4 linked regions of the Homo sapiens genome follow. The gene in region 3 interacts genetically with the main gene of each other region. Each region holds a gene or a part of one and is shown on either strand. Other genes may lie near its edges.

Evidence for each region.
Region 1: changes in ACACA (region 3) and BCL2 together harm fitness less than expected from each alone (positive genetic interaction), as found in Homo sapiens cells (one large-scale study listed by BioGRID).
Region 2: changes in ACACA (region 3) and UNKL together harm fitness more than expected from each alone (negative genetic interaction), as found in Homo sapiens cells (one large-scale study listed by BioGRID).
Region 4: changes in ACACA (region 3) and PTPRA together harm fitness less than expected from each alone (positive genetic interaction), as found in Homo sapiens cells (one large-scale study listed by BioGRID).

Annotation. Positions count from the first base shown.
Region 1 is NC_000018.10:63,125,308-63,127,769, forward strand, and holds part of BCL2 (apoptosis regulator Bcl-2), read right to left. Parts: 3' UTR 1-2,462. UniProt on the Homo sapiens protein: Suppresses apoptosis in a variety of cell systems including factor-dependent lymphohematopoietic and neural cells. Regulates cell death by controlling the mitochondrial membrane permeability. Appears to function in a feedback loop system with caspases.
Region 2 is NC_000016.10:1,408,205-1,411,704, forward strand, and holds part of UNKL (putative E3 ubiquitin-protein ligase UNKL), read right to left. Parts: intron 689-3,500; exon of another isoform or gene 190-688; intron 1-189. UniProt on the Homo sapiens protein: May participate in a protein complex showing an E3 ligase activity regulated by RAC1. Ubiquitination is directed towards itself and possibly other substrates, such as SMARCD2/BAF60b. Intrinsic E3 ligase activity has not been proven.
Region 3 is NC_000017.11:37,242,837-37,246,336, reverse strand, and holds part of ACACA (acetyl-CoA carboxylase 1), read left to right. Parts: intron 1-1,122; coding exon 1,123-1,257; intron 1,258-1,361; exon of another isoform or gene 1,362-1,536; intron 1,537-1,602; coding exon 1,603-1,749; intron 1,750-2,777; coding exon 2,778-2,966; intron 2,967-3,500. UniProt on the Homo sapiens protein: Cytosolic enzyme that catalyzes the carboxylation of acetyl-CoA to malonyl-CoA, the first and rate-limiting step of de novo fatty acid biosynthesis.
Region 4 is NC_000020.11:3,023,481-3,026,980, forward strand, and holds part of PTPRA (receptor-type tyrosine-protein phosphatase alpha isoform 1 precursor), read left to right. Parts: intron 1-991; coding exon 992-1,141; intron 1,142-3,206; coding exon 3,207-3,300; intron 3,301-3,500. UniProt on the Homo sapiens protein: Tyrosine protein phosphatase which is involved in integrin-mediated focal adhesion formation.

The DNA of each region.
Region 1 (2,462 bases), on a different chromosome or scaffold from region 3:
TTCCAAATCTTAAGCCTGCCAGAGTTTTCTGCCCCTGCCAAATCTTCGGAGACGACCCGATGGCCATAGACCCTGTCAGCTGTCATTCTGGCCTCTCTTGCGGAGTATTTGTGCAGCGAGGGACTGGGAGGGCCGAGGAGGTTCTCAGATGTTCTTCTCCTTTTGGGGCTTTTTTTAGAGCCCTTGTCCCCAATTTGGAAAGTGCATATACTCTATTTAACTCTGACCCTGGCCAGTGTAAAGAGGAGTACATACAGAGGACTGTTTTTTCATTCATAAAGAGCAGTTAAGATGCAGATGTGAATCCCTCTTCAATACAAAATAGGGATGGTTCTCTGTTGCCCAACTGCAAAATAATTAGATATAATGAAAAAAAAGAAGAGGAGAAAAAAATGACTAGTTGAGGCTTTTATATACATTCATTGCTTCTAACATGTTTTTAACAATAAGGAAAATGCAACATCAACTACTCTTAGAGCAAGTGCAGCCACAATACTGTACAGTTCTGGGGCCAAGAGGCTGGGCACATTTACTGTTATTAAAACCAGGTAACAAAACCCCACAGCAAAAGGCAGCCAGCCAGCAATTAGCCCCCGTGACCTCTTAATATATATACATTTTTCAAATACTCTGTGAATCCCGTTTGAACAACAACAAAAGACAAAACAGGCTTTATATTAAAAACGTCCACGTTCTTCATTGTTACTTCTAAAGCAGCTTGGAGGATCTTACCACGTGGAGCATACTGCAAACTGACTCCATTAAAATGATTTTGGCAGGATAGCAGCACAGGATTGGATATTCCATATTCATCACTTTGACAATGTAAACCTTTCATAAAATAATATTTTGCTTAAAAATTAGAATCATTCAAAGGTCTGATCATTCTGTTCCCTGAGGCCCGCCGGGGAGGTCTGGCTTCATACCACAGGTTTCCTGCTTTCTTGGTGGAGCGTAAGCACCACTGCATTTCAGGAAGACCCTGAAGGACAGCCATGAGAAAGCCCCCGCGGAAGGAGGGCAGGAGGGCTCTGGGTGGGTCTGTGTTGAAACAGGCCACGTAAAGCAACTCTCTAAAGGTCAAACCACCATAGATTTGAATCTGCTGGTCATTTGCCATCTGGATTTTTAACTGAATGAATCTCATGGGTTTAACCAAACATGCATGTAATCCTGAATACCATGAATTAAATGCGGAATTGCCCAGGGACGAGGAAACCTTCAAGAAACAAGGTCAAAGGGACAACAGATATAACTGTCACAATAAACAATTCTGTTGACGTGGAAATGCACATGACTTGGTTGAAACAAAGCTCCTCAGTGGCCAGTGACATCCAGGTTTTTCTTAGGTAGCTGAGACTCAGGGCTTATCTCACCTTCTCAGAATGCTTTTGAAGAATCAAGAGATAAAAATCTCAAACAGAAAACGATCACCTTTGCTCACAAATAGTGTATAGGCCATAACTAAATACAATTAAAAACAAAAAAACGCTGAGATGCATGTATTTTTTTAAAGCAGCTTTCGAAATATCAACCACAGCATTAAACATTGAACAGAGTACATTCCAAAGTTAATACAGATAAATGGTATATAATGCAATAATGCCACAGAGTTATTCCATCAATGTTTCAAGGCTGATTCTAAACTGGAAGAAAAAAAAATTTCCTAGTTTATTTGCTGAAGATGTCACTTCTTTTGTTACTTCTTTATAGTTCCCCACCATTGATTTTTTTTTTAATGCCCCAGGATGTACAGATAACCCCCATATTCCACACCTGGAACTTTTTTTTTGTCAGGTTTTCAAATAAAACCAAACTACAGTGACAAGATAATGTTTTACATGTAATTCCATAGACAGGGGTCAATTAATCCATGACACCTCACTTCAATGCTTCTTTTAGGATTTGTGACCCTCTCCAAAGTCATTTAAAGCCTTGCTTTAAACTCACAGGTGGGCCAAGGCCACACAGCCAACGTGCCATGTGCTACAGCCAAAATGGGCCGTGGCCATTGCCTCTCCTCACGTTCCCAGCCTTCACCATGTCCTTCTGATAGGAAGGGCCCAGGGCCTCTGTTCCTTCCCTCTACAGTGATACATGTCTTAAGAAGGGTCGTGGCTCCCATGCTCCACGTGAAAACGGGCCTACCTGGAGGGCCCCAGGGTGACAGGCCCAGCCACACCCCTCTACTGCTCTTTCTTGACAGTGGAATTCTGAGCTCCATCAGCTTCCAGACATTCGGAGACCACACTGCCCTGTTGATCATCCCTGGAGGAGGCCAGTGAGGGCCCCGGCTCAGTTCCAGGACCAGGCCTCCAAGCTGGGACACAGGCAGGTTCTGCGGACTTCGGTCTCCTAAAAGCAGGCACTTGTGGCGGCCTGATGCTCTGGGTAACTCTAGCCTTCCTGATGCGGAAGTCACCGAAATGTTCACTTCCTCAAGTTCCAGAGGATTCTGTTTC
Region 2 (3,500 bases), on a different chromosome or scaffold from region 3:
CGCCTGCCCCTCAGCTACACCCCCGGGGCCTCAAGGCCACGCCCACATGGGAGCTGCCCCCCCCCCCAACGACCAGGACGGTTCCCACGGGGGCGGGGCTTCACACGTGACCCGGGACAGCCAATCGCGGGCGCGCAGCGGAGGGGCGTGTCGCGCGGAACAAAAGGCCTTTCCCGAGCGGGGCGGGGCGGGGCCGAGATCACGCTGATGCCCACAGGACCGGCACGGCGTGGGGTGCAACAAGGGGCAGCCACCCACCTAGGAAAGGGTGCACAGTGGGGGCACCCACGGGGGCAGGCACCGGAGGGGGTGCCCACAGAGGATAGAGGACGCCGAGAAGTGACCTGGGGAGCCATAGGATGAGGAAGAGAGAAGAGATGACAGCAGGGGCTGTAGGAGGTCACCCTCCACGGAGGGAGGGGTGACGGCAGAGGCGTCCGCAGGAGCTGGTACCGGTGGGGCTGCCCCCAGGGGGGGCTGACAGAGGCAGCAACTGAGCAGGCAGGGGTGGAGCGAGGTGCCAGCCTGCCGTGGAAAGGAGACGCCAGCAGCGGGGGGCCCTCCTGGGGTCCCAGTCCTGCTCTGCCCCACAGCTCAGCCCCAGCACCTCCAGCCACAACCAAGAGCAACGCCTGATACGGGCTAAGGGTCTCTGCTCTCTGATACACATTCATGTGTAAAATAACAGGTTGGTAGTATCAACACCCAAAATAGAAATTTCTTTTTTTTTTTTTTTGAGTCTTGCTCTGTCGCCAAGGCTGGAGTGCAGTGGCGCGATCTCGGCTCACTGCAACCTCCGCCTCCCACGTTCACGCCATTCTCCTGCCTCAGCCTCCCAAGTAGCTGGGACTACAGGTGCCCGCCACCATGCCCAGCTAATTTTTCTGTATTTTTAGTAGAGACGGGGTTTCACCATGTAGGATGGTCTCGATCTCCCGACCTCGTGATCTGCCCGCCTCGGCCTCCCAAAGTGCTGGGATTACAGGCGTGAGCCACCGCGCCCAGCCAAAATAGAAATTTTAAAAACCAATGAACTAAAGAAAAGGAAGGCCCTGTCCTTATTCTGAACGTTCCTTTATTTACAAATTCCGAGGCAACCCTTAATGAGAACCAGAACGGGTACTTCAATAGGACAAACTGGCTATTCCCTTTGTTCAGCGATGAGAAAGTCCCACTCCCGTGGAATGAAGGATAATTATGGAGGAGAGATCTCAGGGGAGGCAGCCTGTCAGACACTTCCTAAAGGGCCGGTCGAAGCAAGTCATTCACACGCTACAAACAAAATCTTAAATAAAATAAGGAAATTTCCTTACTATGTGTGCATATACCCAGGTATCCAAAACAAAACACCAAACAGGCATCTTAGCCCCACTTACCACCCTCAATTATAAACTGTAAGCCATTCAGACAGCAGGCTAATATTTTTGTAATGATGTTATGGAACTGCTACTTGAGCACAGCTTGAAGTGACCACCTAGAGGCAGGCGCTTACTACAGCACTGTCCATCCCTGTAAGAACTGGATACCACCCTGTGCCTAGCAGTGAGGCTGAGTCCACACCAAGACACCCAGACTCCGCAACAAAAACTTATGAGGCCGGGCGCGGTGGCTCATGTCTGTAATCCCAGCACTTTTGGAGGCCAAGGCTAGCGGATCACCTGAGGTCAGGAGTTCAAGACCAGCCTGGCCAACATGGTGAAACCCATCTCTACTAAAAACACAAAAATTAGCCAGGCATGGTGGCACACGCCTGTAATCCCAGCTACTCAGGAGGCTGAGGTACAATAATTGCTTGAACCCAGGAGGCAGAGGATACAGGAGCCCAGATCGCACCACTTCACTCCAGTCTGGTAGATAAAGCGAGAGCGAGACTCCATCTCCAAAAAAAGAAACAGTTATGAAAAGATGCTTTCTCGCCGGGTGCAGGGCTGCACACCTGTAATCCCAGCACTTTGGGAGGCTAAGGTGGGAGGACTGCTTAAGTCCGGGAGGTCGAGGCTGCAGTGGGCTGTAATGGCACCACTGCACTCCAGCCTGGGTGACAAAGCAAGACCCTGTCTCAGAAAAAAAAAAAAAAGAGAGAAAAAGATGCTTTATCTTTATGCATTAAAAGCATCACCTGGCCAGGCACGGTGGCCCATGCCTGTAATCCCAGCACTTTGGGAGGCCGAGGCGGGTGGATCACCTGAGGTCAGGAGTTCGAGACCAGCCTGACCAACATGGAGAAACCCCATCTCTACTAAAAATACAAAATTAACCGGGCGTGGTGGCACATGCCTGTAATCCCAGCTACTTGGGAGGCTGAGGCAGGAGAATCGCTTGAACCCGGGAGGTAGAGGTTGCGGTGAGCCGAGATCACGCCACTGCACTCCAGCCTGGGTGACATAGAGTGCTGCCAATCAGTGCCCTGTATTCAACACTGGAGTGGGGTCAGACAGGCTGGGTGCTCGTCTTCACACTTCCAGGACCCCCACACCAGAGTTAAGCAGCAGTGGCCCTACTTGCAACTCAGGATCCCAGGTCTGGGCAGATAAGGGGCTTGACCAAGGGAAATCAGGGGCTGAGCCCAGACATCAACTAGACAAATACCTGCCTTTGAAAGCCCCATTTGCGGAAAACAGTGGCTTAAAAACCAATTCAATTATGCACTTTCAGAACCGCCTTGAAGTACATCACCATCCTAACCAAAATGGGCTGACTACATTATTTCAAGTTTAGGCATCAACCTGCCTTAACAACACTATGGCCGGGTGTGGTGGTTTGCACCTATAATCCCTGCACGTTGGAGAGGCCAAGGTGGGAAGATCGCTTGAGGCCGGGTAACACAGCGAGACTCCATCTCTACAAAAAAATTAAAAATGAGCCGAGGTGTGTGGTGGCTCACACCTGTAATCCTAGCACTCTGGGAGGCTGCGGTGGGAGGATCTCTTGGGTCCAGGAGTTTGAGACTGAGACCAGCCTGGACAATGTAGCAAAACCCCTTCTCTACTAAAAATACAAAAACAATTAGCCAGGCGTGGTGTAGAGAGTCTATAGCTCCAGAGGCTGAAGTGGGAGAATCACTTGAGCCCAGGAGGTAGAGGCTGCAATGAGCTGAGATCGTACCACTGCACTCCAGCCTGGGCAACCAGAGTGAGACTCGGTCTCAAAAACAAAATAATAAATAAAATAAAATAAATTAGCCAGGAGTGATAGAGCACTCCTGTGGTCCCAGCTGCTCAGGAGGCTGAGGCAGGAAGATGGTTTGAGCCCTGGAGGTTCAAGTTGCAGTGAGCCGTGTTCATGCCCCTGCACTCCAGCCCAGGGCACAGAGCAAGACCCTGTCTCAAAAAACAAAAACAGCCGGGCGCGGTGGCTCATGCCTGTAATCCCAGCACTTTGGGACGCCGAGGCGGGCAGATCACGAGGTCAGAAGTTCAAGACCAGCCTGACCAACATGTAGAAATCCCGTCTCTACTAAAAATACAAAAATTAGCTGGGCGTGGTGGCACGCGCCTGTA
Region 3 (3,500 bases):
ATAGGCAAATGAGGAATCTCTAGTTCTAAAAATAGATACTAGGCAATAGCACTTGTTGAATGTTAGGTGTCCTAACTGCTGGCTATCCAGAGAAAATACATGGAGGTGGGGCACAAAACAGACAAGAAATGTCATGTGATTAATTTTAAGAGAGCTAAGCATAGAGTGCAGAGGGTCACCTAACCCAAATCAAGCTAAGCTTGTATGGGAAGATATTCTGAAAGAAGAGACATTTGATCTTAGTTTTGAAAGACAGATAGTGATAGAGCAGGTGAAGAAGGGCAGGGAAGAGTGCTTAAAGTTGAAGGAATAGCATGTACAAAGACAGAAGCAAGACAGCACAGTGTATTTAGGGAACTGCAAGTATGTGTTGGTGTGGCTTGAGAATAGACTAAGGTTTAATGGGGAGGGACAAGCAAAGGTGCTAAAGAAGTAATGTGAGATCTTGAATGTGAGGTTATGAAGGATCTTATAAACCATACTAGTAAGTTTTCACTATCCTGGAGGCAGCAGGTAATCTCTGAAAGATTTAAGTGGAAAAGTAGTATGATGAGATTTGGGGTCTAGGAAGATTGCTTTTCGTGACCTTGAGGGAGGTATGTAGCAAGTAGGGAGATCTCTTAGGGGGTCTTTGAAGTACTTTGGGCCAGAAATGAAGAAGGCGTAAACCGAAGAGTTGGCAAGAGAGGAAGATTTTTGAGAAAGGTTTAGAAGATATGTCTGGCTGGGTTGGTAATTGGTAGGTAAGGGAGAAAGAGGAGTGAAGAATGATCCTTAGGTTTTGGCCTGGTTGTCTTAGATTGGATTCACTGGTATGAGGATATTAAATTGTTCCTTACTTTCTAAGTACAAAACAAATATAATCACAAATTATGCCAAAATGGTTGTAAAAGTTAGAAAGGAGAAATGTCAATAACTGTTATTAATTCCTAAAGTGAGGTACTGAGAGATTTTCTAATTGCTTGCCTTGATAGTCCCTAGGAGATGATGGTAAATTCCCATTTTTTCTTGGTCAAATTAGGTGTGGTCCAACTTAGATGCTAAGGGAAAAATTTTAGTTCTTTTAAGCACTCATCTGTGTAAAGAGAGATAAATCTGAGTCTAGTTTATTTTTCACTATAGGTAATGAAGATGGTAATGACCTTAACAGCTGTGGAGTCTGGCTGTATCCATTACGTCAAGCGACCTGGAGCAGCTCTTGACCCTGGCTGTGTACTAGCCAAAATGCAACTGGACAACCCCAGCAAGGTTCAGCAGGTGAGTAGGAAGGTGCTCCGAATATTGCTCTCTAAGAGCTAAAGAACTTGGTGGTTTGGAGAGGCAAGTGATTTCAATGCTTGGTTTGCCAGTGTTTTCTTTAGCTTTGTCCCCTATTAATCTTATGCCTTGTATTTGTGCCTGTAGTATTATGGAACTAGAGTTTGCAAGAGTTACTGTAGTACTAAGATTCTGTAATTTCCTTATGATGTTTCCTCTATTGACTTCCCTCCTGGTAGCTGGGTATGATGTCTCGATTTTGAATGATAACTCTTAAGTGCAGTGGTGTGTTTGTACCTTAGATCAAAAGTAGTAGATGACTTGATCTCTTGTTGGGGTTGACAGGCTGAACTTCACACAGGTAGTCTGCCACGGATCCAGAGCACGGCACTCAGAGGCGAGAAACTCCATCGAGTGTTCCATTATGTCCTGGATAATCTGGTCAATGTAATGAATGGATACTGCCTTCCAGATCCTTTCTTTAGCAGCAAGGTATGTATCACGTCTCCTGGGGAAGGGATGTACAAATGGGATACCTATTCTCCAAAATAGTTCCAAGTCTCATAATGATTGTTTAAGAGGGAGGAAAAGAAAGCTGTTTGGCCTAGAACTCTTTCACCTTCAGTTGTGGGACTTGAGGTCTTTAAATCCATGTTTCTTATCCTTGTCATGGACTTCACATTTAATTGTGATTACTCCTTTTTTTTTTTCCTCGAGACGGAGTCTTGCTCTGTTGCCCAGGCTGGAGTGCAATGGCACAAACTCAGCTGACTGCAACCTCCACCTCCTGGGTTCAAGTGATTCTCCTGCCTCAACCTCCTGAGTAGTGGGGATTGTAGGCACGTGCCACCAGGCGCGGCTAATTTTTTTTTTTTTTTTTTAGTAGAGGTGGGGTTTCACCACGTTGGCCAGACTGGTCTTGAACTCCTGACTTTGTGATCTGCCCGCCTCGGCCTCCCAAAGTGCTGGGATTATAGGCGTGAGCCACTGTGCCCGCCCGTGATTAGTCCTTTTTAAACTGGAGAATAGGGGCAATGTTAGATGCTTACGTTGCAATTTCAAAGTACTCTATGATAGTTGGCTCACGCCTGTAATCTCACCACTTTGGGAAGCTGAGATGGAAAGATCGCTTGAGGCCAGGAGTTTGAGACCAGCCTGATCAACATAGCAAGACCCCATATCTATTGAAAATTATATAAATTTTTATTGAAAAGAAGTAGTATATGATAGTGAATTCAGATATAGTTGACTCTTGAACAATACAGGTTTGAACTGTGTGGGTCCACTTATATGTGGATTTTTTCAGCCAAACATGGATCAAAATTACAGTATTGATGAGATATGGAACCCACAACTATTTCTATACATGGGTTCCGTAGGGCTCAAGTATGTGCAGATTTTCATATATGAGTGGTGGTTCTGGAACCAATTTCCCACGTATACAGAATGACAACTATATATCTTTTTATTTGGGGGATTGTGTTAACTTGGGTCCTATTTTACCAATGCTTTCTTTCTAGGTAAAAGACTGGGTAGAGCGATTGATGAAAACCCTCAGAGATCCCTCCCTGCCTCTCCTAGAATTGCAAGATATTATGACCAGTGTGTCTGGCCGCATTCCCCCCAATGTGGAGAAGTCTATCAAGAAGGAAATGGCTCAGTATGCTAGCAACATCACATCAGTCCTCTGTCAGTTTCCCAGCCAGCAGGTATTTATAGGATAACACTATATTTTTTTCTGGCTACCAATGCCAGAGTTTATGTTGTAGGATTCCTTCCTATTTGGATCCTCCTTACTTTTTGGATGTTGTGCTTGTATACTTTTAAGCATTGTATTCCTCACAAAACTGCCTCAGGGTACAAACCCAACAGTGAAAGTACTGTATGTGAAGGATAAGTATCTGTAGTTATGAGAAAAGCACACTTGGATCATGTATACCTTATAGCTTTGTTCCTGGGGCTATTCCCTAATTAGAGGTATTTTCATGAATTGAAAATAGAGTGATATTAGTTGATTGATTGATTCATTCATTCACTCATTGATTTAGAGATGGAGTCTAGCTCTGTCACCAGGCTGGAGTGCAGTGGCTGATCTCGGCTCACTGCAACCCCTGCCTCCCGAGTTCAAGCAATTCTCCTGCCTCAGCCTCCTGAGTAGCTGGGATTACATTCACACGCTGCCATGCCAGCTAATTTTTGCATTTTTAGTAGTCACGGGTTTCACCATGTTGGCCAGGATGGTC
Region 4 (3,500 bases), on a different chromosome or scaffold from region 3:
GCCTTATGGCTGGAGGTGAGATATGCTGGCGGCAATACTGCTCTTTACTGCACTGAGATGTTTGTGTAAAGTCAGACATAAATCTGGCCTACGTGCACATCAAGGCACAGCACCTTTCCTTAAACTTATTTATGACACAGAGTCCTTTGCTCACATGTTTTTCTGCTGACCCTCTGCCCACCATTACCCTATAGTCCTGCCACATCCCCTTAGCCGAGATAGTAGAGATAGTGATCAATAAATACTGAGGGAACTCAGAGACGAGTGCTGGCGCATGTCCTCCGTATGCTGAGCACCGGTCCCCTGGCCCACTGTTCTTTCTCTATACTTTGTCTCTGTGTCTTCTTTCTTTCCTCAGTCTCTCGTCCCACCTGACGAGAAACATCCACAGGTGTGGAGGGGCTAGCCCCTTTCATGTGATGAAGGGCTCTTATAAATTATGTATTCAAAGAAATCGAGCACAGAGGAGGTTGTGGTTTCATGCCTGGGAGAGTCAGGAAGGCAGATGACAGGTTACTGGACTTCAAAGATTAGGGAACAGGCAGCTGAAAGAGCCAGTGCCCAGAGACATGATGAAGCTCGGCCACATCTGGGAGCAGCAGTGAGATTGGCTCTGCAGTTGGGGCATAGCACCAGGAGGGAGGCAGGGACCAGACTATCACGGGCTTTGGGTGTCTCCAGTTTCTGACAGCCCCTTCAGACTATTAAATCTGCACTCTCAGAATGAACAGGAATTGAGTTTGTCCTTCTCTCCAGGCGTCCACCACCCCCAAGATAGACCTGGACCCTTCTTCCCAAGTAAAGCACCCCCACAGGGACTCCTGCATTTCAAGTCCCACTTCACTAAATTGGGATAATAAGAGGGAGTCCTTTTATTCCTGCTAGGATCAAAGGAGAAATGGACTGGAGTGAAGTGGGGGTGGGAACAGGTGATCTGGCATGAGAACTATGTTGTATGTAACCAAGAACTTCTGTGTCATTCATGTTTCAGATGCAGTATGTCTTCATATACCAAGCCCTTCTGGAGCATTATCTCTATGGAGATACAGAACTGGAAGTGACCTCTCTAGAAACCCACCTGCAGAAAATTTACAACAAAATCCCAGGGACCAGCAACAATGGATTAGAGGAGGAGTTTAAGGTGAGTTGGAGCTGGATAACCTCCTTCAGATTGAAGGATCCTTGTAATCTGGGGAACATGGGATGCCTGACTGTGCATTTGCCAACAGTAAATCCCCTTGTGAGGCATGCCAGTGGTTAAGGAGATGGTCCTTTCCTCGTACTCTGGTAACTCTCAACTCATCCTGCACGTTGGAATCACTTTGGTTGTGTTAGAGTAGGGAGAAGCAGGCAACAGTATTTTAAGGCCCCTAGCCCTCCGAGGTGATTATGATACACAGCAAGAGCAGTTTTTTCTGTAAGAGCCAGATAATAAATATTTTAGGCTTTGCAGCCCACATGGTTTCTATCCAGCTACTTAGTGCTGTCTTTGTAACACAAAGGCAGCCATAACCAATAGGTAAATATAATGAGTGTGGCTGTTTTATAAAACTTTATTTGCAGGCAGCAGGCAGCAGGCCAGATTTGGCCTCTGGACCTTAGATCACTGATAGCTCCTATATGCCACTAGACAATGGTTCTCAACACACCTAAGGCATATGTCACACTGTCATCAGTAAAAGTGCTCTCCCAGGCTGGGCACAGTGGCTCACGCCTGTAATCACAGCACTTTGGGAGGCTGAGACAGGTGGATCATGAGGTCAGGAGTTCCAGACCAGCCTGGCCAATATGGTGAAACCCCGTCTCTACTAAAAATACAAAAAGTAGCCAGGCATGATGGCACATGCCTGTAGTCCCAGCTACTCAGGAGGCTGAGGCGAGAGAATTGCTTGAACCCGGAAGGCAGAGGTTGCAGTGAGCCGAAATCATGCCACTGCACTCCAGCCTGGGCGACAGAGCGAGACTCCATCTCAAAAAAAAAAAAAAAAAAAGTGCTTTCTCAGAAGCAGGAGATTCTGGGTTGGGGTGGGGAGGACCACTTAGAGAAGTTCTTCTCAAATATAGCATGTGCACAGATTTCTTTGGGATCCTGTCAAGATGTGGGTTCTGCCAGGCACGGTGGCTAATGCCTGTAATCCCAGCACTTTGGGAGGCCAAGTCAGGCAGATCACCTGAGCTCAGGAGTTCAAGACCAGCCTGACCAACACGGAGAAACTCTGTCTCTATTAAAAATACAAAATTAGCCAGGCATGGTGGCACATGCCTGTAATCCCAGCTACTTGGGAGGCTGAGGCAGGAGAATCACTTGAACCCAGGAGGCAGAGATTGCAGTGAGCTGAGATTGTGCCACTGCACTCCAGCCTGGGTGACAGAGCAAGACTCTGTCTCAAAAAAAAAAAAAAAAAAGATATTAGGTTCTGATTCAGCAGGTATGAGTTAGAGCTTGAGATTCTGCATTTCTTTTTTTCTTTTCTTTTTTTTTGAGATGGAGTTTCACTCTTGTCACCCGGGCTGGGGTGCAATGGCGCGATCTCAGCTCACTGCAACCTCTGCCTCCCGGGTTCAAGGGATTCTTCTGTCTCAGCCTCCTAAGTAGCTGGGTCTACAGGCACGTGCCACTACCCCCGGCTAATTTTTAGTAGAGACAGGGTTTCACCATGTTGGCCATGCGGGTCTCAAACTCCTAACCTCAGTTGATTGCCCACCTTGGCCTCCCAAAGTGCTGGGATTACAGGCATGAGCCACCACGCCCGGCTTGAGATTCTGCATTTCTAATAAGGTGAAGCCAACGCTGCTGGTGTATGGGCTACACTTTGAGTAGCAAATGTCAAGAAGGAGCCTCAATCGGGAAGGGAGGATGCAATTCTGAATAAGTTTTTTTGAAGAGCCTTAGGCAGCCTCTGGGGGTGGAACTGCAGAGTGGACACACTCCCTCCTACGATGCTGGAATCCCTTGCTCCAGGATCACAAAATTCCAAGCCAGGAGAATCTCAAGAGAGTCCACAGGAGCCTGGAAGGTAGCATTTCCCAAACAGTCTCTTGGCTTCAGGGTTCCAGCTGAACATATGGGAACAGAGGTCAGGGCCCTGGTGAGAAGAGCAGTATGGAGCCAGAGTGGCCTGGAGGTGCAGGCCAAGGGACAGGCATAATCTTGTCAAGTTCAGTTACTGGGATCAGTAATGTTTCCCCTCCCCTTCCCAATTCAGAAGTTAACATCAATCAAAATCCAGAATGACAAGATGCGGACTGGAAACCTTCCAGCCAACATGAAGAAGAACCGTGTTTTACAGATCATTCCATGTAAGAGCCCTCCCGCCACTCCAAAGCCTTATTGCCCCATCCCTCAATTCCCTCCACCCCTTCCATTTCTCAGGTACTAGTTAATGATTGGCGTATAGACAAGAATCATGGCATTGCCTCTTGTTGCACCCACTTAACAACATGGCGTTGCCTTTTGTTGCACCTTAGTGGCTTCTGGAAATAACGTAAAAGCCAAAGGC